Linked DNA regions of Homo sapiens. The protein of the gene in region 1 interacts with the protein of each later gene in a biochemical or structural test. Each region holds a gene or a part of one and is shown on either strand. Other genes may lie near its edges.

What was found.
Region 2: the proteins of RAB11FIP1 (region 1) and RAB11A form a complex in vitro, tested with the Homo sapiens proteins (2 studies listed by BioGRID, with this or other methods).
Region 3: of the proteins of RAB11FIP1 (region 1) and PASK, one has a biochemical effect on the other in vitro, tested with the Homo sapiens proteins (one study listed by IntAct).
Region 4: the proteins of RAB11FIP1 (region 1) and RAB4A form a complex in vitro, tested with the Homo sapiens proteins (one study listed by BioGRID).

The regions. Positions count from the first base shown.
Region 1 is NC_000008.11:37,875,496-37,882,535, forward strand, and holds part of RAB11FIP1 (rab11 family-interacting protein 1), read right to left. Parts: intron 2,057-7,040; coding exon 1,614-2,056; intron 1-1,613. UniProt on the Homo sapiens protein: A Rab11 effector protein involved in the endosomal recycling process. Also involved in controlling membrane trafficking along the phagocytic pathway and in phagocytosis. Interaction with RAB14 may function in the process of neurite formation.
Region 2 is NC_000015.10:65,886,491-65,892,489, reverse strand, and holds the end of RAB11A (ras-related protein Rab-11A), read right to left. Parts: intron 4,790-5,999; coding exon 4,650-4,789; 3' UTR 501-4,649; downstream 1-500. UniProt on the Homo sapiens protein: The small GTPases Rab are key regulators of intracellular membrane trafficking, from the formation of transport vesicles to their fusion with membranes.
Region 3 is NC_000002.12:241,125,469-241,132,508, reverse strand, and holds part of PASK (PAS domain-containing serine/threonine-protein kinase), read left to right. Parts: intron 1-5,057; coding exon 5,058-6,313; intron 6,314-7,040. UniProt on the Homo sapiens protein: Serine/threonine-protein kinase involved in energy homeostasis and protein translation. Phosphorylates EEF1A1, GYS1, PDX1 and RPS6.
Region 4 is NC_000001.11:229,274,104-229,281,143, reverse strand, and holds part of RAB4A (ras-related protein Rab-4A), read right to left. Parts: intron 1-7,040. UniProt on the Homo sapiens protein: The small GTPases Rab are key regulators of intracellular membrane trafficking, from the formation of transport vesicles to their fusion with membranes.

The DNA.
Region 1 (7,040 bases):
ATAGCACAGCCCCCCACGACAAAGGCCTGTCTAGTCTAAACTGTCCACAGTGCTGAGGTTGAGAAACTCTGGGTTAAACCAATGAAAAGGGCAGCACTCTTGGTAGAGTAGCAGAATCCGGCCAATGGGAGGGATTTAGACATTGAAATTGAAGTTCAAAATACATAATTAACTCAGAGCTAAAGGAAGCAGATTCCTTGGCTTCTGATAAGGCTATATCCCACGAGGGTTGAGCACATCACAGGAACTCAATAACTACCTGATGAATTAATGAAATATCAGAATTACCATAAGGTTCCATGGTTTTACCCTTAAAAAAAAGAAAAAAAAAACTTGGAAGACACTCATTCTGTTAGCTCTAAAAGCTTGTACTAGTGGACATCATTTATAGAGCCAGGAACTCTGGAAAAGGAATTTATACATTCTTAGAAACCAGAGGGTATAATCCCAGCACTTTGGGAGGCCAAGGCAGGTGGATCACTTGAGGTCAGGAGTTCAAAACCAGCCTGGTCAACATGGTGAAACCCCAACTCTACTAAAAATACAAAAATTCACCGGGTGTGGTGGCACGGACCTGGAATCCCAGCTATTCGGGAGACTGAGGAAGGAGAATTGCTTAAACCCAGGAGGCGGAAGTTGCAAAGAGCCAAGATCGCACCATTGCACTCCAGCCTGGGTGACAGAGCAAGACTCCATCTCAAAAGAAAAGAAAAGAAAGAAAGGAAGGAAGGAAGGAAGGAAGGAAGGAAGGAAGGAAGGAAGGAAGGAAGAAAGAAGGAAAGAAACCAGAGGGCTTAGAAATAGAGAGGGCATCTCAGCCATGGGCAATGGTTCACACCGGTCATAAGAGCCCTTTGAGAGGCTGAGGCAGGAGGATCACTTGAAGCCAGGAGTTTCAGACCAGCCTGGGCAACATAGTGAGACCTCATCTCTAAAAAAAAAATTTTTTTTAATTAATCAGGTGTGATGATGCACACCTGTAGTCCCAGCTCCTCAGAAGGCCAAGGTGAGAGGATTCCTTGAGCCCAGGAGTTGGAGGCTGCCGTAAGCTATGATCGCGCCACTGCACTCCAGCGTGGGCAATAGAGCAAGACCCTGTCTCTAAAACAAACAAACAAAAAATATTTTAAAAAAAGAAACAGAGAGGGCATTTTTTTTTTTTTGAGACAGAGTCTCACTCTGTCACCCAGGCTGGAGTGCAGTGGCACGATCACAGCTTACTGCAGCCTCTACTTCCTGAGCTCAAGCAATCCTCCCAGCCTAGCCTCCTGAGTAGCTGGGACTACAGGAGTATGTCATCACATCTGGCTAATTTTTATATTTTTTGTAGAGACAGGGTTTCACCATGTTGCCCAGGCTGGTCTCAAACTCCTGGGCTCAAGCAATCTGCCTGCCTCAGCCTCCCAAAGTGCTGGGATTACAGGCGTGAGCCACCACGCCTAGCCTTAGAGAGGGCATCTTAACCACCGCTATCATCATCCCCACCACCATGATTTTGTAATTGAGGAATTGAATTAAACTCTTTCTCTTGAGATTTGTCTGTTTCTTCTCTCTCAGAACGAAGCATGGTAAGAGGAAGAAGAGAGGTCAAGCAGGAAGAGGCAGAAACTCACCATCCGAGGCCGAGGAGGACTCATCCTCATTGTCATCTTCATCCCACTGGGACTGAAAGTCTCCGGGACGAAGCAGCACTTTTTCTGGCTTTGAAGTCGGCAGGACAGACATGGACTGGGAAAGAGGCGTCTTCTGCAAATTTGACTTGGAAAGTAAGGTCTTGATCTTTGATTTCTTTTTCTTGTCTTTAACCACAGACTCATCATCACTGTCGACCGAAGGTGTCGTGCTAGGGATGATGGCGGAGGCGGTGTCTGACCCACTGTCCTTATTCTTCCCCTTGATCTTGTCCTTCAGCTTTCCAAATGGATTCCGAGACTTGTCTTTCATAGAAAGGTCAAACATGCTGGCAGTCATGTTGTTTCTCATAAACTGGATGTCAACCTCAATTTCTCCTCGCTCCTTGTCCTTCTTTCCTGGTTTGGATTTCAACTTATACCACCTGAAAGGAGAAAGGCTGAGGAGTTACCTTTGAATGGAAGCAACTGCAACAATGTTCACAATCCCCATGAACTGGCCTCTCCTCTCTGCTACCAGCAGCCTCTTCAATGCATGCATTCTCATGCTTTCTCTTCGGGAAGTGGTAGATGAGAGCAGAATTTTTTTTTTTTTTTTTTTTTTTTTTTTTGACACAGAGTCTTGCTCTGTCACCCAGGCTGGAGTGCAATGCCACCATCTCGGCTCACTGCAGCCTCTGCCTCCTGGGTTCAAGTGATTCTCCTGCCTCAGCCTCCTGAGTAGCTGAGATTACAGGAGCGCGTGACCATGTCCAGCTAATTTTTGTATTTTTAGTAGAGATGGGGTTTCACCATGGTAGCCAGGCTGGACTCGAACTCCTGACCTCAGATGATCCGCCCGCCTCAGCCTCCCAAAATGTTGGGATTACAGGCGTGAGCCACTGCACCCGGCTGAGAGCAGAATTTGCACTTTTATTTCTTTTGTTTTGTTTTTTATTTTGCACTTTTATTTTTGAGAAGACACGCGCTAGACAAAGATAGGATCCAGTGTTGTGCTTAGCGTATAATCACCTCAAATCCTGATTCAATAAAGAGCTCATTCTAAAAATAAAGAAAAAAAAATATTCCATGGAATCACTTCCGATGAGTGATGTTTTCCTTCAGTAGGGTAAAAATGTAAAGATCAGGGCAGGTGCGGTGGCTCACACCTGTAATCCCAGCACTTTGGGAGGCTGAGGTGGGTGGATCACAAGGTCAGGAGTTCGAGACCAGCCTGGCCAATATGGTGAAACCCCATCTCTACTAAAAATATAAAAAATTAGCCGGGTGTGGTGGCAGGCGCCTGTGGTCCCAGCTACTCAGGAGACCGTGGCAGGAGAATCACTTGAACCCAGGAGGCAGACGTTGCAGTGAGCCGAGATCGCACCACTGCACTCCAGCCTGGACAACAGAGTGAGACTCCATCTCAAAAAAAAAAAAAAAAAAAAAAAGCAAAGATCATACACAAACAGTTAAGAAGGGTGGCGTGCAAATGATGTATAATTAAATCTCAGAGAAAATCAAGTTTGTAGTAAGGAATGGTCCCTGCCAGGGAGTAAAAAAATAATAATAATACAACACAGAATTAAAAAAAAAAAAAAAGTGGGGAGGGGGTTGGGCATGGTGGCTCACACCTGTAATCCCAGAGATTTGGGAGCCTGAGGCAGGAGGATCACTTGAGGCCAGGAGTTCAAGACCAGCCTGGGCAATATTGCGAGACTCCATCTCCATAAAAAATTAAAAAATTTGCCGGCATGGTGGTGTGCGCCTATACTCTCAGCTACTCAACATGAGCCTAGGAATTCGAGGCTGCAGTGAGCTATAATTGCACCACTGCACTCTAGTCTGGGTGACAAAGTGAGACTCTGTTTCTAAAAATAAATAAATAAAAATAAAGAATTTTTTAAAAGAGTGAAATCAGGCTAGGCACAGTGGCTCACGCCTGTGATACCAGTACTTTGGGAGGCCGAGGCAGGCAGATCACCTGAGGTCAGGAACTCAAGACCAGCCTGGCCAACATGGCGAAACCCCGTCTCTACTAAAAATACAAAAATTAGCCGGGCATCATGGCGAGCACCTGTAATCCCAGCTATGCAGGAGGTTGAAGCAGGAGAATTGCTTGAACCCGGGAGGCGGAGGTTGCAGTGAGCCAAGATCATGCCACTGCACTCCAGCACTCCAGCTTAGGCGACAGAGCCAGACTCCATCTCAAAAAAAACAAAAAAAAAAGTGAAATCAGTCAGTTAGAAAATGACAAACACTATATGAGTCCACTTATGTGAGGTTCCTGGGTTAGTCAAATTCATCCAGTCAGAAAGTAGAATGGTGATTGCCGGAGGAGGGGAAGGAGAGAATGAGGAGTTAATGTTTGATGGGTATAGAGCTTCAGTTGTGGAAAATGAAAAAGTTCCGGAGATGGATGGCGGTGATGATCACACAACAATGTGAATATTCTTAATGACATTGAACTGCACACTTAAAAATGGTTAAAATGGGGCCAGGCGCAGTGGCTCACGCCCGTAATCCCAGCACTTTGGGAGGCCAAGGCGGGCAGATCACTTGAGGTCAGGAGTTTGTGACCAGCCTGACCAACATGGTGAAACCCCATCTCTACTAAAAATACAAAAAATAGCCGGGTGTTGTGCCACATGCCTGTAATTTCAGCTACTCTAGAGGCTGAGGCAGGAGAATCGCTTGAACCCGGGAGAGGGAGGTTGTAGTGAGCCAAGATCACACTACTGCACTCCAGCCTGGGTGACAGAGTGAGACTCTGTCTCAAAAAAACAGGTTAAAATGGTAAATTTAATGTTACATATATTTTACCACAATAAAAAAAATGGTTAGTTGGAAAGGAAGCCTTCTTCCCTAGCTTAATAATCAGAAAAAGTCACATTTCAAACACTATCCAAGAATTACACTTGGTCATTTGCAACCCACTTCAAGATGTGAAAAATGACATTATACCAGTCCAACTCCACTGAGAGACAAGCTTCAGAAAAAGGAGATCTCATGGCATTCATTTTCCATTTAGGAGCCCTATACCTTTGGTGAACTGTAAGAATGTGAGCCAGGTTGGGTACAGTGGCTCACACCTGTAATCCCAGTGCTTTGGGAGTCTGAGAGAGGAGGATTGGTTGGATCCAGGAGTTTGAGACCAGTATAGGCAACAAGGCAAGATCCCATTCTCCAAAAAAAAAATTTTTGTTTTTTTGAGACAGAGTCTCGCTCTGTCCCCCAGGCTGGAGTGCAATGGCGCGATCTCGGCTCACTGCAACCTCCGCCTCCCGGGTTCAAGTGATTCTCCTGCCTCAGCCTCCCGAGTAGCTGGGACTACAGGTATATGCCACAATGCCCAGCTATTCTTTGTATTTTTAGTAGAGACAGGGTATGGTTAGACAGGCTGGTCTCAAACTCCTGACCTCAAGTGATCCACCCACCTTGGCCTCCCAAAGTGCTGGGATTACAGGCATAAGCCACCAAGCGTGGCTAAAAATATTTTTTTTTAATTAGCTGGGTGCAGTGGTGCGTACTTAATAGTCCCAACTACTTGGGAGGTTGAGGCAGGAGGATCACTTGAACCCAGGAGTTCAAGGCTGTAGTAAGAGCTATGATTGCACCACTGCACTCCAGCCTGCGCAACAGAGTGAGACCCTATCCCTTTCAAAAAAAAAAAAAAAAAATGTGAGCCCAGTTTGTAGCAAGACCATACAATGGGACAAATAACTCCAAATACCTGGTCTATAGTGAGCTGTCCACCAGGTCACCCTCACAAACTGAGAACTCACATTCTGAAGTTCTTTTCGGTGACCTATTTAAGAGCGGAAGGTAGTGGACTTAAAGGAAATGATGGTTTTGCCCAAATGAGCACAACTTCCTCTTTCACCTTCAGCCATGGCTGGTGGCTCGCTCACAGGGCAGATCCCTGCCCCCACTGCTACGGCTCCTTCTACACTTAGAGGAAAGGCACAGGGGAAAGTCGAAACCTAACACCTAAACAGCACCTGTGGCATACCTGACACTGCCTACGCACAGAGACATCTTCATTTCAGCCTCACAAGAACGACACGGAGTAGATATTATACCCATTTTATAGATGAAGAAATTGAAGCTCAGAGGTCTGAGAACTGGCACAAGGTCTTGCAACCACTATGGGGTACAGCTAGGATTCCAAATCAGTTTCCCCTATTCTTTCTCCTATTCTTTCCCCTACACCAAGACTCCTGCTTTAAATTCTCTCCTAATTTATCTTGGATGGGCCATCTTTTGTAACATAGAGAAAAGAGGGTTCAAATTTAAATTCTTTTTGAGAAACATTTAAGCTTCTCATTTAAATGTCCAAAGATGAAAGAAGAAAGGAAGGAAACTAACATAGCTTGCCATCAGTCATAAATCGTTGAGATTACTTAAAGGCCAGTATACAAAGTCATCAAGAAGAACTTAAAATGAATTCACAAAATACAGCAAGGAGAGGATAAAATTATATGAGCTATAATTTTGGACCCTTAGGAGACAAATCTTTTATGGTTTTTATAACCTCAATCCAGAGCTGGGCAGGCGGGGAGTGGTGGGTGTTGCAAGACGCAAGGTCTTTTTTTATTTTTTATTTTTTGCAACAGGGTCTCACTCTCTTGCCCAGGCTGGAGTGCAGTGGTGCGATCATAGCTCACTGCAGCCCTGGACTCCTGGGCTCAAGTGGAAAATGCAAGGTCTTTATAGACAATGTCACCCTTGCCAGCCTAGTGTCTGTCCAATACATTTTCCAGGGCCTGGCCTGGAATTGTCTGCATATTTGTCACTTCAATTTTGAGAGGATTATTTATATTTTTCTCTTCTGACAGTCATGTGGTAAATGGTAGCCTTGGTGATGAAGGGTGTTTAGCTTTTGTAAATACCAGTTGCAGGCACCTGAAAAGGAGAAGTTGCTGAACGCTAACTGAGGAGGTTTCGATGACCTCACCAACCGCAGGCGGGCAGCACGCTTCACCTCCCCGCCCAGGGCAGGAGCTTCAGGCAGGGGTTTCTCCACAGCTCTTCCACACGGGCCCTTCTATTAGCCCTCCACGGGGATGCACAAATGTGACAGGCCTCCAAAGCAGCTGTCAGAGGCATTCAAACCAGTGCAACTCCATCTTGAGTGAGGGCTAGGAAAATGAGGCTGGGACTTGCTGCGCTGCATTCCCAGAAAGTTAGGTATTCCTAGCCTCTAGATGTTTATGGGTAAGGGAACAGATGGATAATGTTTACCAAACAGACCCAGACTTGGGAGTGTTCTAATATCCCCAAATCTGGAGAACAAAGGCTATCCTAATTTTGCTTTGAAGCTAATAATATTGATTCTCACAAAATATAGTAATTAAGAAAATTAATCCTTTATCACAAACCCTTGTAGTAGGGCACATCTCTCAATGATCTTTTTATCCTGTGTATGAA
Region 2 (5,999 bases), on another chromosome or scaffold:
CACTTCCCTAGAAATACCTGAGAAAATGGTATGCTGAGAGATTAGAGGTTGTCAACAGGGGGACAGGTGCTAAAAACAGTACATTATTCATTGGGATGAGAGTTAAAAAGGTCTGAGATTTTGTGGTTTGGAGCAAGGTTAAGTTCCACTGACTCAAACATAGTAAAGGAATCCTGTTGGCTGCTAATTCTCACTACCATCACTGGTACTGGTAACATAGTTAGCCAATATACATAACATTTTGTGCTCACACCCGTGTCAGGAACTATCCTATAATTAATAAATGTCAAAGAATTGAATTTAAATAATGTTTTGACTATTAATAATTAGATCACTAGATCAACAACCCCAAAATACCATGTGTATCATGTACATGCACACATAAACCTGTACACTTGGATTTAATCACTGGTTCTACTGGATAGCTAGCCTGTGGACTGATCTACCTTCTTGTAGATTCCTATTAAAGAAATAATTTTTTAAAAATTAAACACAAAATGTTTTTAAAAGTTCTCTCCCAGACATGAGTATATTTTAAAGTACATATTAAAAGCCAGCAGTTTTTTTTTAACAGCAAAAGCCATAAAACAAGCAGTTCTCAATTTACAGTTAACATAGCAGCCCATCAAGTGCTCCTCTCCCTTAGCATATATGGTACTTTGATGCATATTGTTGATATTGACAGTCATTTTGCAAATAAATGTTCTGAAAGCTTTCATCTTATTTAAAGGAGTAAACATGGAAATAAAGGCACCATTTTAATCAGGTTATTGTGATAAGACCAAAAACATTCCACAAAGTGCATACCTCATTTTGACTTCTCTATTAAATTTAAACTTGAGTTAAAATGTTAATAATTTGGCTTTAATTGAAGAGAGAGTTCATTCAGAGAATTACAGAGTTCGAATTGGGATGAATCCCCAGAGTTTATTTAATCTGGTACCCTCATTAATTGGAAGAATGTGAGGCTCAAAAATGAAATGACCACAAGAGCCATGACTAGAATCTCTTCGTTACTCAGTCCAGTGCTCTATCATACCAGCTACTTTCACTCTTCTAACCCACAGTTTACCGTATTTTCTAATACATGCTAGTATATTGCCTAGTACACAACATCCTTTCAAATATTCTTTCTTTATTCTCCAATTCACTTTTCAGGAGAATAGATAACCTCAATCATATTGATTCTCAGCCTAATGGTCTCCCTTACATAAATTATAATGACATAAGCATTTTGTATCACTTTATTGTTACCATCGACCTCCTACAGTTTGGGGGAACCCAATCATTCTTTAAAACATTAGAATGACAACTCCAGTTGATTTGGCATATTGTATAGGTGAGTGGGAAAGACTTGTCAAATCCCAGAAAGGGGCGTGGCACCAGCACCACCCAACCAGAAGAAAAATCTCTCTTTGGTGCTAGTGTCATAGCTCCCTATCTGTTCCGCTAACCCATTAAATGATGTGGTGGAAGAGGATCCTTTCACAATCTTTGTTCATTTTTTTACAGAGCAAATGGAAGTCATACATAACCTTTTACAAAATTCATTTTTTGTTTTAATTTTTTTCCAGGTATGTGATATTTGTGAGACATCAGAAAATCAATTTATATTTTTTTCCTCTGTTAAACCAAGCCCCACAAATTGAAACCTGACAGGTTAGAATAAGTTCTTAAATATCCACCCAGCCTTTGAATTCTTTTGCTTCTAGTGTTGGCCAAAACTGTCTAAATAGTACAGCTTCTTCTCTAAGGTAGATGGAAGAGATTATCACAACAGCTCAACCCACTAAAAGCATTTGTATTTTATAAATACCAGTCAGCAAAGACAAAAATTAAGATATTCATTTTTTCAATGATCAAAGAAATGTGACCAGCTCTGATGGGCAACCCAAACTCAAGAAGTGTAACTTTTCTGCAGAACCCTTCAGAACTTAAAAGATCACTGATGTAAGGTCACTAGCTGGCACCTCTTCTTATAATTACAATTAAATGGGCAATAACTTACCCTTACATAATGACAACTACTATTAAAGAGAAATCATGGCATTTGAGAACAATGACATAAGATTAAATCAAGGCACCATGGCTAACTATTCAGGAGACTATATAACAGGTTAAAAAAAAATTCAAGGCCAGGCACGGTGGCTCACGCCTTTAATCCCAGCACTTTGGGAGGCCGAGGTGGGTGTATCACCAGGTCAGGAGATCGAGACCACCCTGGCTAACATGGTGAAACCCCGTCTCTACTAAAAATACAAAAAATTAGCCAGTCGTGGTGGCTGGCGCCTATAATCCCAGCTACTCGGGAGGCTGAGGCAGGAGAATGGCATGAACCCTGGAGGTGGAGCTTGCAGTGAGCTGAGATGGTGCCATTGTACTCCAGCCTGGGCAACAGAGCAAGACTCCGTCTCAAAAAAAAAAAAAAAAATTCAAAGTTAAAATAACTGAAAATCAAGGTCAAGTAGCAAAATACTTCTAAACTGCCTTAAGCCCTGAACTGTCATAATATTTAAAAATTTATTGTTTCTTGCTTGAGACAGTTTGTCTCCTAAGATACTACTCAGAATAAAGACACCTGCTGAAATGCAATCAAAGTCATTTTCTAATACCTAATATTTCCTGGAATTCTCCCAAGATCCAGCCATACTCAAAGCAACATTTAAGTCTACACTTGGGTAAAAATTCTAAGTTTACTTTATTCATTTTCAATTCACTATTTAGTTTTTCTCTTTTCTCCTTACTTTGTAAAAAATCTACCACCAACTTTCAATAAAATAGAGATGGTTTCTTTTCCTGGGTCTGGTGACACTGTTATATATGAAAATACACACTACTTTCCTAATGTTTTTGGACATACTTTTTCCAAGGAAAGCATAATTGAACTGCAGTTCTAAAATCAAAGCTGAATTCACACACTGATGCTCCCAATTCAATGTTTACTCAGTAATGCAAGAACCTATGCTTTTACATCAGGATTCCACGGCTGCACCCAAAGCACTCAAAGGAAAAATGTAATCTGACAGCATAAGAAATAATCCCCCTATAACTGTTTATTAGAATGTGAATATAATCCAAATCAATAACTAAAAAAAAATCAAATTACAGAGCATGCATAAAATACAAAGTAGCAATTTACAAATAGATAATATTATCTTCATAACTAATACACTAAAATAATAAAATGGCTATAGAAGAAAACCAAAATGACTGACTACAGCAATGCCTTCCGTGTGCCCCACACATCATGAGCACCGCAAGAGACAAAAGATTAACTATGAAATATAGTAATCTAAGCAAGCCCACACATACATATTTTTGGGGATTTCCCACCATCCTGAATAGTATCACTGCAGTTGACACAACTTCCAGGAAACTGCAGAGTAAGTGCTTAATATTATCCACGAGAAAGCAAAACTAAATATTAGTGTGCACATTTCTGAATGAGAAACTAATTGCTTCATTGATTTCAACAATGTAGTGGAAGAAAACTATTTCAGATCTCTACAATGCCTAAATGCATTCTATTTAAACTCAAGGTACTATTTCATTTTACATACTAAAAGAATACATGCCTTTAAGTGGTACCACTTGAGCAGAAATTAACCTCTCACTGTACTCTTCAGACATACTGAAACCAAAGATTTAACTGGACTATATTCTATAATATACTGCAAAACTCAAATATTAGCATTGTTAAAATAATTATCCATGCCTGCTGGTGGATATGGTGATAAAACTAGGTTGTATTTCACTTACTGGAAGGTTCTAAGACAAAATTAACACTTCAAAATTTGACACTACCAGCATTAAACCAATTATTGCCTGAGCAATAAAATGCCACATAATCTACCGCTTGGAAATTATTATAGATCATTTAAATCTTTTGGGCTGCCTGATCATTGCCAACAGAGGCACCCGAGATGGAATACCACAAGTCTCTTCAGTTCCCAGCCTACCAGGCAGCACTGTTTAACTTATGGCCCCACAACCATACTACTAATGAAACCGTAACAATCTTTTGTGTTTACTAAGAGAATTCTCCAGAAAAAGTGCCCCCCTCTCTAATCAACTTTGATGCTTACAAAAATTAAAAAACAAAATTTACTCAACTACATAAACCTATTAAGGCATTTTAGAAATTCATGTCCAGAATAATGGAAAATTTTCAAGCTCTCAAAATCCTGCTATGTTTATAGGGCAATTCTTAGATTTGTGGAAATGTACACTGCACTGAGAGAAGAGTGTATTACCTATAAGCTGCTCTGTGGCAAAATGGTAGCTTATTTCTAAGGTCTTCTTAGTTTGATTTGATCAAGACCAATAGGTCTGAGCTTCAAGTGATCAAGTTCTATTATGTCCTACATACAGTGACAGGCTTCCATGATGAAAAGTAAACAATAACTGAGGAATCCAAACATTCAGTTTATTAAACTAAGGCTAGTGAAGCCATAGCATGAAAAAAAGCTGCAGTCATTCGGGACAAGTGGATGATTTTATAAAGCTAAAATCAAAAGACTTAGGACATGGAAAAATTCATAAGTATGAAGTAATAAAACACAAAAGTGACACAAGAATTACAAATATATTTAAATCTCAGACCTGGGAAATGGACTATACACAGCCTTCTAGGGGAGAAGAGAAATGCCTTAGATGTTCTGACAGCACTGCACCTTTGGCTTGTTTTCAGTGGTTGGTGGAACATGAATAGGAACCACATTGTTGCTTGGAGACATGTCATTTTCGCGTCTGTCTGACATTTGCTTCTGAGAAACAATGCGGTAAATCTCTGAAGGAAAAAAGAAACCACAATACTTAGTGTGAATAAACCTATCATAGTTAGGATAAAAGATACATAAAGGTAGGAGATATATTTGCATCAAAGTCCCTAAGGAAACTGAACAGAGAATACATAAATTTAAAGTTTTATTTTCAAACAGCCACTGATTAGATTCAACCCTTTATTTTAACAATTGCCCTTTGGGTAAGAAAAGAAACAAAGGTTTTTCCATGTCAGAGGGAAAGGTTCACCAGTCAAATAAATCTTTGTTTAAAGAGGTAAACCAGGCCAGGCAGATCACCTGAGGTCAGGAGTTCAAGACCAGCCTGACCAACATGGTGAAACCCTGTCTCTACAAAAATACAAAAATTAGCCAAGCATGATGGTGGGTGCCTGTAATCCCAGCTACTCGGGAGGCTGAGGCAGGAGAATCACTTGAACCCGGGAGGCGGAGGTTGTCGTGAGATGAGATCGTGCCACTGCACTCCAGCCTAGACAACAGAGCAAGACTCGGTCTCAAAAAAAAAAAAAAGAGGTAAGCCAATAGCATTACATTGTTTATGGACTTAGATTCAAAGTAAACCATAAGAGTATTTTCAGTCTACCTTTACCCCAAAAAACAAACAAACAAACAAAAATTGCCTACACACAATGACATTGTACCACACAAAAAATAAATAAATTTGCACTATCAGACGCATTCGGCAGAGTACATCTTAACAAACATGCTAAAATCCCAAACGATTCTTGGAAGGGAAAAAAAGATAATGTGTTTATCAGTGACCTCCTGAACAAAACTTAAATTGTAATTAAAGAATGATACAAAATAGGCAACTTAAGATGTTATATGTAAACTCTATTTTTATTTCATGACACTTATCAAAAATAATTTAGTGTCTGCCTCTTTTACTAAGTGTTAAACTCTGTAAGGATCAAAACTGTGTCTGTCTTACTGCTGTACTGCAACATATAACATGTGTTGTGATAAATAAATAACCGCATGAATGTCACTAAATTCCTCCACAATAAGTATCTGTATGTAACACGTTTGGTCTTATACTGCACTGCCTAAAAGTTGTTCCCTGTGACTAGATTATAAAGTCCTTAAGAACAGAGAATGTACCTTATTTTTGTTTACTCTCCCAGTTGTCCCTCCAAAAACACTACTCTCAAAAAGCAAGATAATTCTAAAAATGTGTCAAATTAACACAATTAGCCT
Region 3 (7,040 bases), on another chromosome or scaffold:
CACCCAGGCTGGAGTGCAGTGGTGCGATCTCAGCTCATTGCTCATTGCATTGCAAGCTCCGCCTCCCGGGTTCACACCATTCTCCTGCCTCAGCCTCCCGAGTAGCTGGGGACTACAGGCGCCCGCCACCACGCCCGGTTACTTTTTTGTATTTTTTTTAGTTTCACCATGTTGGCCAGGATGGTCTCGATTTCCTGACTTTGTTATCCACCCGCCTTGGCCTCCCAAAGTGCTGGGATTAATTTTATCATTTTCAAAGTCATATGAAGCTGTTCTCTTTGCACATTTTAAAATATTCTATTTAGAGTAAAGAAAGTTTATATTAGAGAATTAGGAACATTTGGAAAAGTAGAAATAAAAACTTGTTCTATTCTCATAGTCGTATTGTACATAGCACGTGTGTGTGTATTTTTAACCCATTTTCTTCTTCGGAATCTTTTTTTTTTTTTTTTTTTTGAGATGGAGTCTCACTCAGCTGCCCAGGCTAGAGTGCAGTGGCGTGATCTTGGTTCACTGTAACTTCTGCCCCCTGGTTCAAGTGATTCTCCTGCCTCAGCCTCCTGAGTAGCTGAGACTACAGGCACCTGCCACCACGCCCGGCTAATTTTTGTATTTTTACTAGAGGCGGGGTTTCACTATGTTGGCCAGACTGGTCTCGATCCCTTGACCTCATGGTCCACCCGCCTTGGCCTCCCAAAGTCCTGGGATTACAGGTGTGAGCCACCATACCTGACCCAGAATCTTTTCTTATGCACAGCATGCAGTAAAGGTGCCCAAACTGTAGGTGCCCAGGTGGCCCAGGACCCTTTCTTGGCTGCCTGCAGACCCTGGGTCCCTTCCTGCACTGTGCCCCCTACACCCTGCTGCCCTGGGTCAGGGCAGAGGTTAGACTGCCTGCCGTTGAGCCTGACGCATGCATTTCCTTCTGTCTGCCTTCTGCTTATTGCTGTGTCTGTGATATTTATCCACATAGTTGTGTTTTCTAGTCTTGAAATTATTTAAAAAATATGTAATAGATACATATAAAGTATGTATGTATGTTTAAAAATATGTAATGCATGGGCCAGGCGCGGTGGATCACGCCTATAATCCCAGCACTTTGGGAGGCTGAAGTGGGTGGATCATGAGGTCGGCAGATGGAGACCATCCTGGCTAACACGGTGCAACCCCGTCTCTACTAAAAATACAAAAAATTAGCCAGGCATGGTGGCGGGCGCCTGTAGTCCCAGCTACTCGGGAGGCTGAGGCAGGAGAATGGTGTGAACCTGGGAGGCGGAGCTTGCAGTGAGCCTAGATCGCGCCACTGCACTCCAGCCTGGGCGACAGAGTGAGACTCCGTCTCAAAAAAAAAAAAAAAATGTAATACATGCATATGTGTTTTTTTAATTATAGAAGAATAATGGTAAAAGCAATAGTTCCCCTGGCCGTCTTCCAATCCCCCTCCTCCAATCCTACTCTTTCCCCCAGGGGACCGCAGTCAGCAGTTAGAGCCTTCCAGGCCTTCTTTCTTGTGCATTTAACTATAGTTGTATATTATACTTCTATGTGTGCATGTGCATATGTGTGCTCACATGTAACTGCTTCTGTTCCCTGAGCACGGCTGGGATTATACCATACACAGTGTCCTAAATGTGTGTGTATGTGTACGCACACACATGTCCTGCAGATCTTCCTCTACAGGCCTCCTCGGAACCGAAGCCTCCTGGATGGCACCCTAGCTCATGGGCCACTTTCCCACTGGCCGATGTGCCGGTGCTTTCTCTTGTTTGCTTAGCCTCCCTGATTTTCCCTTTGCCACTGTGGGTCCGCGTTGAGTGGCGTGAGAGGGTAGCTGTTGGCTCTATTTGCTCTACTTCCACTGCGAGTGGAACAGAGCAGGCGCTCAACACGTGAGTTTTCAATATTACTATGAATAATATTGCTGTGCGCACCTCTCCAGAGGTGCCACCAAGCTGAAGTGGGGCGGCCGTGGTTGAGGGCCCAAGTCTGACCCGTGGGTGCTCAACAGCACTAGCGGCCGGGCCCCCTTGCCAGTGCTCCCGTTGTCTGGGACATCTTGGTGGACAGAGGCCACGTGGCCCGTTGCTATCCTCAGGACCTTGGACACAACTCATCTTCCAGGACTTGGTGGTACCAAGGGAGTTGCCCAAGATCAGCCAATTCCTAGTCTTTCTATTGCATTGGACGTTTCTGGATGTCACAGTTCTGAGAGTTTGATTAGCATCCACTGCACAGCTAGTGCAGTTATGACTATAGAGATTTATCCATTCATTCCCCGCTCAGTCATTCACTCACTCGTTCGCTTATTCAACAAATAAGCATTACAGAAGACTTGGGGTGTGTCCCTAAGAATTGTAGTCTGGTCAGGACAATAAGCTGAAACAGTAAGACAGAACAGGGTTAGGAAGCATGAAGGAAGGAGGTGAGCTGTACGGAGTGCTTTTGTGTTTTAGGGACTACGTTGGGTGCTTCCTCGTAAGTTGTCTCCTTTAGTTCTCCTGGTAATCCTGGGAGTGTAGTCTGATTTTTAGCAAATGGATGCTGAAGCTGAGTGAATTGTTACACTGGGCATCAGGTCCTCGAAGAGACCCCAGGTGATGTGCTCAGACAGCAGGTGGGGGTCTCGGGTCTCCACGGGGGTCAGGTCCTGGTGCTTCCCCACTGGAGGACCTACGGTCCCTGGGGCTGCCCTGGGTTGAGGTCCCAGCAGCTCAAGGCCTGTGTGCAGTCGGCAGATCACATCCTTCATGCCCTGACTGCATGCTGGCCAGAACTGAGTGGCGTGGCGATGCCTGGCTGCCAGGGCAGCTGGAGGATGTCCTCATGTTTCCTGAGTTGCTGTCATGCTGAAAGTCAGAGATCCACAGTTTCACAATCTCTTAGCCAAAATTATGAAATCCAAAAAGCCCCCAACACTGAAATATTTTTCTTAGAATTGATGCTAAAAGCATTGGACGGTCAAATTGGCCCTAAGCACGTGAGAAGCTGTTTGTGGTTTTCCCTTGACCTCTGCAGTTTGAGTGTTCAGAGGCCTTGCTGCAGACACAGGGCAGTGGATGCCCGTGAAGCCCTCTCCCCAGCCTGCTGGGGTCTCCCTAGCAAGTGGTCATATGACTTTTCTGAAATCCCCAAACACATCTGGCCCAAGGGTTTTGATGGAAGGGCCGTGGACCCAGGTGACTGTGGAGAGAACGGGTACTGAGGCTGCAGCAGCCCGCTAAGGCCCCAAGAGCATGGGTGAAGATGCAGTGCTGCCCAGGGGCCTCAGCTTTGTGTCTGGACTGTGCCCCAGAAGTTGCCCAGACTCTTTGGCAAGGGGCTTTGTGAGACCCTCGTGGTGTGCATTCGCCTCCTGTCTTACCTGATCCTGCAGGAGGATGTGCAGTTTCCTAGCATTTGCATGGGGTTTGTCTCAAGCATGGGATGGATGGAGAGCGGGAGAGGGAGGTACAGGGGAGAGAGAGATGGGAGACATGGAGGGAGAGAGGCGGGAGACATGGAGGGAGAGAGGCAGGCAGACGCAGACCCTCAGCCTCCCCCTCAGTTCCCCTCAGAAAACTGCTTTTCCTCAGAACTTGGCTCACAATCCCTTTCTCTGTGGAACCCACCCTTGGGTTGTATCCTTCCTCTTCCGTCTTTTTTTTTTTGAGATGGTCTTGGCCATTGCCCAGGCTGGAGTGCAGTGGTGCGATCACAGCTCACTGCAGCCTAGACTCCTGTGCTCAAGCGAGGTTCCCGCTTCAGCCTCCCAAGTAGCTGAGACTACAGGTGTGTGTCACCACGCTGGCTAATTTTTAAATGTTTTGTAGAGACGAGGTCTCACTATGTTGCCCAGGCTGGTCTCGAACTCCTGGGCTCAGCCTCCCACAGTGCTGGGATTACAGGTGTGGGCCACTGTGCCCGATCCTGTCCTCTTTCTGAGCCTCTGGTATACCTTTATTAGGTTGCTGATGTTAACCTGTGTGTCTGTCCCCGAGTGAGGTGGTGCGGTCACATTCTGTGCATCTGGTGCCCAGTGTCAGTCTGTCATGTGGAGGCCAGTGGCTGGGCTGACAGGAGGCCTGGGTCCCTTGGCTCTGTGATCATCCTGTCTGGACTGTGGCAGCCTCCTCATGGGTCACCATGTGCTGAATGCTGGAGGACATTGTGTGCCACCTCTTAGGAGCCGCCCTCACCAGCCTCCTCTCTCTTTTTCGGCCCGTGTCCCCTTCTTTTTTTGTTTGTGTTTGAGACGGAGTCTCACTCTGTCACCCATCTCACCAGTGAGCTGGTACAATCTCAGCTCACTGCAACCTCTGCCTCCCAGGCTCAAACCATTCTCCTGCCTCAGCCTCCAAGTAGCTGGGATTATAGGTGCCTGCCACCTCACCGGGCTAATTTTTGTATTTTTAGTAGAGACAGGACTTTGCCATGTTGGCCAGTCTGGTCTCGAACCTCCTGACCTCAAGTGATCTGCCCACCTCGGCCTCCCAAAGTGCTGGGATTACAGGCGTGAGCCACCACGCCCGGCCCCCTGGCCCCTGGCCCCTTCTGTGTGGGCCCCATCTGAGAGCCATTTCCCAAATCTGAGAGCCATTTCCCTAGTCGGCTGTGAAATCGGATGGTGTTTGTAGTCAATCAGTTGTTTTTTTACTGTTGTGGAGTTTACCAGGGACTCTCCAATCTCTCTCTCGTTTCCTCTCACACCTCCTCAAGGCAGCAGCACGGACTTCCCCTTGCAGGTGGGGCCGAGGCTAGGCTGCACGGCTGACGGGGGGTTTGGGGGCCCTGAGATGAAGCGAGAGCGCTGACCAAAGCATTGGCAAGTTCTCCTGTACTTTACTGTTGGGCTTTTGGTAGCATTCTCTGCAAAATCATTTCTAAATGTGGACTTAATTTGGAGAAATTTGAGACTAAGTGCTTTATTTTTTAACTTGGTCACAAAATTTGGTCTTTTTCTTGTTATAAATTGGTGGCATTAAATGCTTTGTACTTAGTTCTAATGGAGAATCGGTGCAATCTCTCCTTTTGACTCATCTGTGGCCCTACATGATGGTCACCCATGTCATTATCCCCAGGGTGGACAATGTCCCAGAAGGAAGCCTGCCAGTGCACGGTGAACAGGCGCTGCCCAAGGACCAGCAAATCACTGCCTTGGGGAGAGAGGAACCTGTGGCAATAGAGAGCCCCGGACAGGATCTTCTGGGAGAAAGCAGGTCTGAACCAGTGGATGTGAAGCCATTTGCTTCCTGCGAAGATTCTGAAGCTCCAGTCCCAGCTGAGGATGGGGGCAGTGATGCTGGCATGTGTGGCCTGTGTCAGAAGGCCCAGCTAGAGCGGATGGGAGTCAGTGGTCCCAGCGGTTCAGACCTTTGGGCTGGGGCTGCCGTGGCCAAGCCCCAGGCCAAGGGTCAGCTGGCGGGGGGCAGCCTCCTGATGCACTGCCCTTGCTATGGGAGTGAATGGGGCTTGTGGTGGCGAAGCCAGGACTTGGCCCCCAGCCCCTCTGGGATGGCAGGCCTCTCGTTTGGGACACCTACTCTAGATGAGCCGTGGCTGGGAGTGGAAAACGACCGAGAAGAGCTGCAGACCTGCTTGATTAAGGAGCAGCTGTCCCAGTTGAGCCTTGCAGGAGCCCTGGATGTCCCCCACGCCGAACTCGTTCCGACAGAGTGCCAGGCTGTCACCGCTCCTGTGTCGTCCTGCGATCTGGGAGGCAGAGACCTGTGCGGTGGCTGCACGGGCAGCTCCTCAGCCTGCTATGCCTTGGCCACGGACCTCCCTGGGGGCCTGGAAGCAGTGGAGGCCCAGGAGGTTGATGTGAATTCGTTTTCCTGGAACCTCAAGGAACTCTTTTTCAGTGACCAGACAGACCAAACGTCATCAAATTGTTCCTGTGCTACGTCTGAACTCAGAGAGACACCCTCTTCCTTGGCAGTGGGCTCCGATCCAGATGTAGGCAGTCTCCAGGAACAGGGGTCGTGTGTCCTGGATGACAGGGAGCTGTTACTACTGACCGGCACCTGTGTTGACCTTGGCCAAGGCCGACGGTTCCGGGAGAGCTGTGTGGGACATGATCCAACAGAACCGCTTGAGGTTTGTTTGGTGTCCTCTGAGCATTATGCAGCAAGCGACAGAGAAAGCCCAGGACACGTTCCTTCCACGTTGGATGCTGGCCCTGAGGACACGTGCCCATCAGCAGAGGAGCCAAGGCTGAACGTCCAGGTCACCTCCACGCCCGTGATCGTGATGCGCGGGGCTGCTGGCCTGCAGCGGGAGATCCAGGAGGGTGCCTACTCCGGGAGCTGCTACCATCGAGATGGCTTACGGCTGAGTATGTCCCGGGCCCCATAGGAAGAAGTGTGGTGCTCCCAGAGCACAGTGCAGTGGGGGTGCAGGGCCTTCCTTGTTCTGGGGTCTGATGGGGTTTCACCCTGGAATAGTGTTAGCAGAAATCATGTTTTCAAGGAGAATGCATATCATCCACCCCTAGAAAATTAAGATTACGAATGTGTGTGCCTGGGGAGGGTGGCGCCCAAGGTCCCAGGCCACCTGCCCCATGCCCGTCAGTTCCAGCTGTGCCCCCTGACTCAGGCCATACACTTAGAGAGCCGCTCCTCCCAGCAGCCTGGGGAGATCCCGTCGGGAGCAGGAGAAGCGTGGGGGTGTCACGCTAGAGTCTGTCTCTCCACCTCCCACCAGCCCCCACCTCAGTGGTCACACAGACAGGCCGAGAGGGATGTGAGCGTGGTGAGATGCTCACGTGTTCTTCTTCCGTGCTTTTGGTGTTTAGGCTGCCCTGATCTCTGAAAAACCTGCCCTTCTGTGAGGGTCATGTGATCGGGCCCCTCTGCTTGCCCCTTTGAGATTGATTCTGTTTTACTTTCTTTTTTATTTTCATTTCTTTTTTTTTTTTTTTTCTTTTTTTTTGAGACAGAGTCTCTCTCTGTTGCCCAGGCTGGAGTGCAGTAGCGCGATCTCAGCTTACTGCAAGCTCCGCCTCCCGGGTTCATGCCATTCTCCTGCCTCAGCCTCCCTAGTAGCTGGGACTACAGGCACCC
Region 4 (7,040 bases), on another chromosome or scaffold:
AGACATTCATCTCGGAGAAATGAAGACTTTGAGTCATATAAAACCCTGTATATGAATGTTTATGGCAGTTGTATTGGTATAGCCCAAAATTGGAAACAACCCAGATGTTCTTTAACAGGTAAATTGTTAGACAATCTTTGGTACACTCATAACAAGAAATGCTACTCGGAAATAACAAGGATTAAACTGTCAATACATGCAATAACCTGGAATGTATCTCCAGAGAATTATACTGAGTGAAAAAGTCAATCCGAAAAAATTGCAACTGCAAGATTCCATTTATATAATATTCTTAAAATGACAAAATCATAGAAATGGAGAATAGTGGTTGCCAAAGGCTAAGGAAAATGTGGTGATAGGAAGGAAGTCTGTGCCTATAAAAGGGCAACAGGAGAGATCTTGTGGTGACGGAAGTGTCCTGTATCTGTGTCAACATCAATATCCTAGTTGTGATATTCTGCAACAGTTTTGTAAGTTTTTCCCATTGGAGAAAACTAGGAAAAAGGTGCATGAGAACTCCGTATTTTTTCTTAAAACTATATGAATCTGCAATGATCTCAAAATAGAAAGCTTAACGGAAAAAAAAATACGTGATATTATCAGACAATGACTCTGTACGTTTACTATGCACAGTCCCCAAACTGGAAGAACTAGCAAAGGATTCAAGAAGGAAACAATACCACAAGGAAGGAGCAGCAGATAAGCAGCTGAGCTGTCCATCAATTCTTTTTCTGTGTGGTGATACATGTATTTAGATAACGCAGATAAAACTATAAGGAGATAATGAATTATTCCTTGGTAGATGATGAGAATCCAACTTCATGAGGAGTTTCAGTTAGTGCTGAATTACCTGGATCTCACAGAAATCATTCTGGCAGGAATGCATCATGTTCTCTCAGAGTGTTCAATGTTTGCTGGTTTGCAGCAATGATGATCTCACTCATCATGACTCCATATCAGAATATGGCAGAATCTGTACTAGTTTTATGGGTTTATTTTGTATTTTTAATCTGTGGTTTTTTCTTTTTCCTTGCTTAACAGTGGATGACATATATATAGCATACCATGTGTATGTTTTATATGTTAAGTGTATAGTGCTTAACAACTACAGAAAGGCTTAACAGGAACAGGTGAATAGCCATATTACAGAGTAATTAATGAAGGCAAAATGCCTATGTAGGTTATATAACTAAGTGTCAACTGGTTAAATAATTGTGCCCACTTAAATTAGATTCGGTGTTTATTATAGTGAACGTTAACTTGAGGGCTCAAATTCACAATAAATTTTTCTCACTCAGTTTATAATTATATTCACCTGATAAGGGTTTTCTCCAGAATGAATTAAGATTGAAGGGAAAGACCACACCCCAAAACAGAAAATCTAAAACAGATACATCCTACTAATGTACTTTTAACTTTCCGTATGAGAAAAGTCAAATGAGATAATAGGAAAGGTATCAAATAATTAGAATTCAATCTTGAGCAAATGTCAGCCATTCAGGAACACAGACAAAATAAAGACCAGGAAAAAAAGGTCTCCTAGCCACTGAAATAGCAAACATAAAGCCAAAAAAGATTAACTCTACAGGAGACACCTCATTTGGAATTGACTGACTTGTTTTACATTCACTTCAAGCAGCCTCTATTACCTAATGCCCCAAACTGCAGTAGATCAAAGGTATATACTAAAGTAGGACTGTGAACTACAGGCACAAAGGCAGATGGGGACAGCAGGGGATGAGCTAGAAAGTGGCCGTAATAGCACAGCACATTCTGTGCAGCAGTCAATAGTCAATGATGACCTTGAGTGTTCAAGAAAATTAAGCCATATTCAGCAGACACGATGACCTCTGCCTTCCTAGTTTTTTCCCCAAGCAATCGTCTTGCTTTCAAGATTTCCAAATGTCAGAAAGGAAGCACGGATGTATGGCCTCTGACTGTATGATGCATTTCATGTGTCCTACTTCCTGGCAGAAAAGGCTAAGTGCTGTGGTATAGCACTAGAATTTGGGTAGAATGGAGTCATTTAAAGAAGGTTTCCTTCTTTAGGAATTAAAGGCTTAGGGTCTGTGATTACGAAAACTGAGATAAGAGATGCTGAAGGTTCTGAGAAGGAATAGGCTTTAAGGTAAAATAATAAGTTGCCAATTCAGAGATTAAGTTGAAAATACCTGTAAGCCAACACAGTGGAGATTTGGGGAAGCAGTTCTTATAAGGGCCGAATATGAAAAGAGAAGCTAAGTAAGATAAAGGCTGCCAAGTGTCCACTGACTGATCATCAGCATCTCTGGTGAAACCAACATCATTTCAGGTGGGGGCAAAATCCTAATTACAGTCAGTTGAAGAATGAAGGAAGTAAAACTGTTGACAAAAAGTACTGACAGCTCTTATAAGCAGTTTAGCTGTGAGGGAAAGGAGAGACAGAGGTGGTTAAAGGAGGAAGGCGCAAAGTCAGGAAGCTACCAGTGGAAAGGGAAAAGGAGGGGAACAGACATGATGGGTGAAGTGGGGACTTGAAGCTTTAGAGATGGGGTCCAAAGTAGAAGGCTGGGGTTAGTTTTAAACAACAGAGACCTTCTGAGACAACATGGAAAGGGTTAAGGATGAGGTAAGCAAGTTTGCAGACATGGCATCTTTTCCTTACATCTACTGGTGGTCATCTACTAGGAGTGAGAGAATGGGCTTGAGGAGATGTGTGAAGGTTTAAAATAGCTGATGTGGAGAGAGAGGTGGCCAGGATAAGAAAAATGATTGCTAAGTATTACTGAGTACCCAGCTGGAAGCAGAGACCATACATCTGCAATGATCTCAATCTAAAAGGAGCTCTGTCTGCACAGCAGGCAAGGCAGATGGCTGGGTAGCCAGGGCTGGAGCTGTGCAAAGTGTGTGTAGTTGAAAGAAAAAGAAGGACGAGGTGGAAGGAAAAGCCATGAGTCTTATCTGAAGAGAGAGCAGCTCATTGCCTGAAAAGAAGAAAGGGGCCAGGCATGGTGGATCATGCCTGTAATCCCAGCATTTTGGGAGGCCAAGGTGGGTGGATCACTTGAGGTTAGGAGATCGAGACCAGCCTGGCCAACATGGTGAAACCCCGTCTCTACTAAAAATACAAAAATGAGCCAGGCGTGGTGGCGCACACTTGTAATCCCAGCGACTCAGGAGGCTGAGGCACGAGAATCACTTGAACCTAGGAGGTGGAGGTTGCAGTGAGCTGAGATAATGCCACTGCACTCCAGACTGGGCAACAGAGTGAGACTCTGTCTCAGAAAAAAAGAAGAAAGGGAGGAGATGGACCAGCAGCCTGAAGCTCTTACAGTGAAGACTGGATGGAGTTGGAGTGGTCAGAATGGGATAGGTGACAAAGTCCAGGGAGCAGTCAGGGAAGTGAGTACCTGAAGAGGTGGTAGAAGAGACCTGACTTCATCTTGACTAAAGTCAAGGAACTGTGGAGCGGAGTTGTTGATTGACCTCTGCAAGGACAATGCAGTGACCTAGGATCAGTCAGGAGTTAGAGCAAAGAGCAAGACCATATGATAGATGACCTTGTTGAAAAAGGACTATCCCCAGGGTCATCAGATAACAGCAACGAGGAGCTGGCAGAGGACAGAATATAAGATGACATGTACTTTAAAGGACAAAAAGTTTTGGTACAATGGTCAGGGAGGAATTGAACAGTGGGAACCTTGATGAAATGCTGGTTAGGAGAGGTGGAAGGTTTGGGCAGCAGAAGAGCACACGACCTGTAGAGGAGCGGGAAGAATAAGAAGTAAAGGAGGTGGAACAGGCAGCAAAAGCTAATCATGGGACTCTGCAGTGTGCCTGTAGGAGCCGCGGTTTACCTAAGCCTGAATTAAACGTTGTCGGCACAGCGGAATCCTGACGCTTGTAAATTTAACATTTGCAGCACAGACTCCCAACAATTGCTCCAGGTTCGTGATTGGGTCTTTGATTTTCCTGACCCATTCGTTGGGATCACACACACTGAGGAGGCTGATTTGAGGAAGGCAGTTACTTAGCAGGCCAACTCTTTGTTACTTTCCACTGATATAATAATAATTTATATAAATATAAATAATTATATATAAATTATAAATAATTATATATAAATTGTAAATAATTTATATATAAACTATATATATTATATATATCTATATTATATATAGATATATAGTTCTTCTAAAGTGGAAAACTACTCCCATCCTGGCCCAGGAGGCTCTTGTATCCTCATGAACCCAGGTTCCAGGTGCTGTGGAAGCTGCCTAGGGACAGTGGTGCAGATGCTGTGTGGCAAGCTGTAAGATAGTCAGCACAGCTGCTCAAGTCACTACGACGAAGAACTTTGGAATGAAACCCAATTTGCTTACCTTTTAATCATGTAAACTGGCCCTAATTTAACTTTCCTTTGCATCTTTCAGGGTAAACAGTAACTTAAACCATGTTAAGAAGTCAGCTCAAAAGACTCTGAAACCCAATAGATCCAGGAGGTAAGGATGGGGAAGAATTAAAAATGGACTCTAACTTTATCTTCTAGGCAAACACAGGAAAAATAGAAGATGGGGCATAGGCGTGAATAATTTGTTGGGTTTGGGACGTACTGCATTCAGATGCCTGTAGGCCACCCAGGTGTAGTTAGGTAGCTGAAAAAAAGATCTGTAGTTTGAGTGAAGGATGTGACTAGAAATATAGATGTTACAGTCATCAGAGCATCAGCAGTAAAGTCACAGGCATGGATTGGAATACTTTACAGTTCAAATGACCATGAGAAAGAATATTTTGTTTTTTCAAAAAACCATGCTTTCAAAGTTCTCGAGCATGGAGTCATTACATGCCTCCCTGGACCAACAGCACCTGCACGGCCCGGGAGCTGGTCAGATGCCGATCTCCCTCACCCTCCAAGTCAGGATCTACATTTTAATACACCAGGGGACTCGTGTGCACATTAGTTTGATAAGCCACTGGTGCAATGTTTCCCAAACTTTGGTACTTGAAATGTTCACCAGCTTTCAGTGAATGAGAAAAAGAAAATGACAAACATGTATAATCATATATTTATTCAACTTGAAGAAATGTCCTTTGTTTTGGTGTTACAGGATTCCTTTGTTGACATGTTTACCTGTTCCATCTTTCATGAAATTAAGGTAAAGGGCAATTGGGGTGATTTCCCTAAGAGCAAGTTATTTCATACTTTATTGGAACCAGGTGACTTTGAAATGCTATTTATACACGGGCACGGTGGCTCACGCCTGTAAACCCAGCACTCTGGGAGGCTGAGAAGGGCGGGATCATGAGGTCAGGAGTTTGGAGGCCAGCCTGACCAACATAGTGAAACCCCGCCTCTACTAAAAATACAAAAAAAAAATTAGCTAGGTGTGGTGGCGGGCGCCTGTAGTCCCAGTTACTTGGGAGGCTGAGGCAGGAGAATCGCTTGAACCCGGGAGGTGGAGGTTGCAGTGAGCCGAGATTGTGCCACTGCACTCCAGCCTGGGCAACAGTGAGAGACTCTATCTCAAAGAAAAAAAAAAAAAAAAAAAAGGAAAAGAAATGCTATTTCCTTTACCAAGGATATCTTCTTCACTTCATCTTGCCTTGTCATCCTAAATTTCTCATGAATCGTATTTTGATGAGCAAAGCCTATATTTTAGTTTCTTAGGGCTGCCATCACAAAGAACCACAAACTGGGAAGCTTAAAACAACAGAAGTTTATTGTCTCACAGTTCTGGAGGCCGGGCATTCAAATTCAGAGTGCTGACAGGGTCAAGGTCTCTCTGAAGGCTCAAGGGAAGGATCCCTCCTTGCCTCTCTCTAGCTTCTGGTGGTTGCCAGCCACCCCTTGGCACTCCTTGGCTGGTAGATGCATCCCTCCAATCTTGGCCTCCATCCTCACATCTCTTTCTCTCTGAATGCATTTGTGTCTAAGTTTCCCTCATCTTATAATGACACCAGTCACTGAATTAGGGCTCACCATAATTCAGTACGATGACCTCATCTTAACTTGATTACATCTGCAAAGACCTTATTTCCAAATGCGGTCACATTCACAGGTACTAGGGGTTAGGACTTAAACAGATATTTTGGGGAACACAATTCAACCTGAACAGCCTAAAATGATACATTTTTAAGGAAAATATTCTGATAATTCTCAAAATTATATGGCAAATACTGTAATACTGTGCTGTTTTCAAAATGAAGCACAAAATAAAAACATTAAGAGTATATTTTAATAAAAATGAGCATAGAACCAGCAATTTGAATTGTATTCTTCTGTTTCATTTGTTATTCCCATTGTAGACGGCATAAACTCTAATATATGTAGAGATTTTGTATTAGATTTTTCCTCACTCTCGAACTGCCCCAGCACTTAATTTCAAAAGAAATTCCTGGCATTTTCCCACTACATATACTTTTCAGCTCCTTTCTGAACATCGCTGCTTAGCATCAAAATTACTTTCAGCCAATTTGTAATCTCCCAGGTCTCAGATGGCTGAAGCAGAGTTCCTTGGGAAGTCCCAAGCCATACTAACTGGCCAGGGCTTTAAGAATGTAGTGTATCTAATGGCATTTGGTAGAACTGTTTCATATTCAGACTAAGGGTTTCATCCAAAACCTAAGATTTCAATTTGTTTCACGATATTACATAAAGTACAGTATTCATGTGGTGACTTCAAAGCAACAAAAATGTTCAACACTACTCAGTCTATGGAAGGTGAAATACTGTTTTAATATGTTAAAAAGCATATTAAATGAACACATTAATGAGAGGTAGCTCATAAACAGTACATTTCAGCAGGGCACAGTGGCTCATGCCTGTGATCTCAACATTTTGGGAGGTGGAGGCACGAGGATCACTTGAGCCCAGGAGTTCGGGATGAGACTGAGCAACAGACAGAGACCTCGTCTCTACAAAAAAAATTAAAAAAAAAAAAAAAATTAGCCAGGTGTGGTGGCATGCACCTGTGGTCCCAGCTACTCAGGAGGCTGAAGTGGGAGGATCACTTGAGATGGGGAGATGGAGGTGGCAGTGAGCCGTGATTGTGTCACTGCAC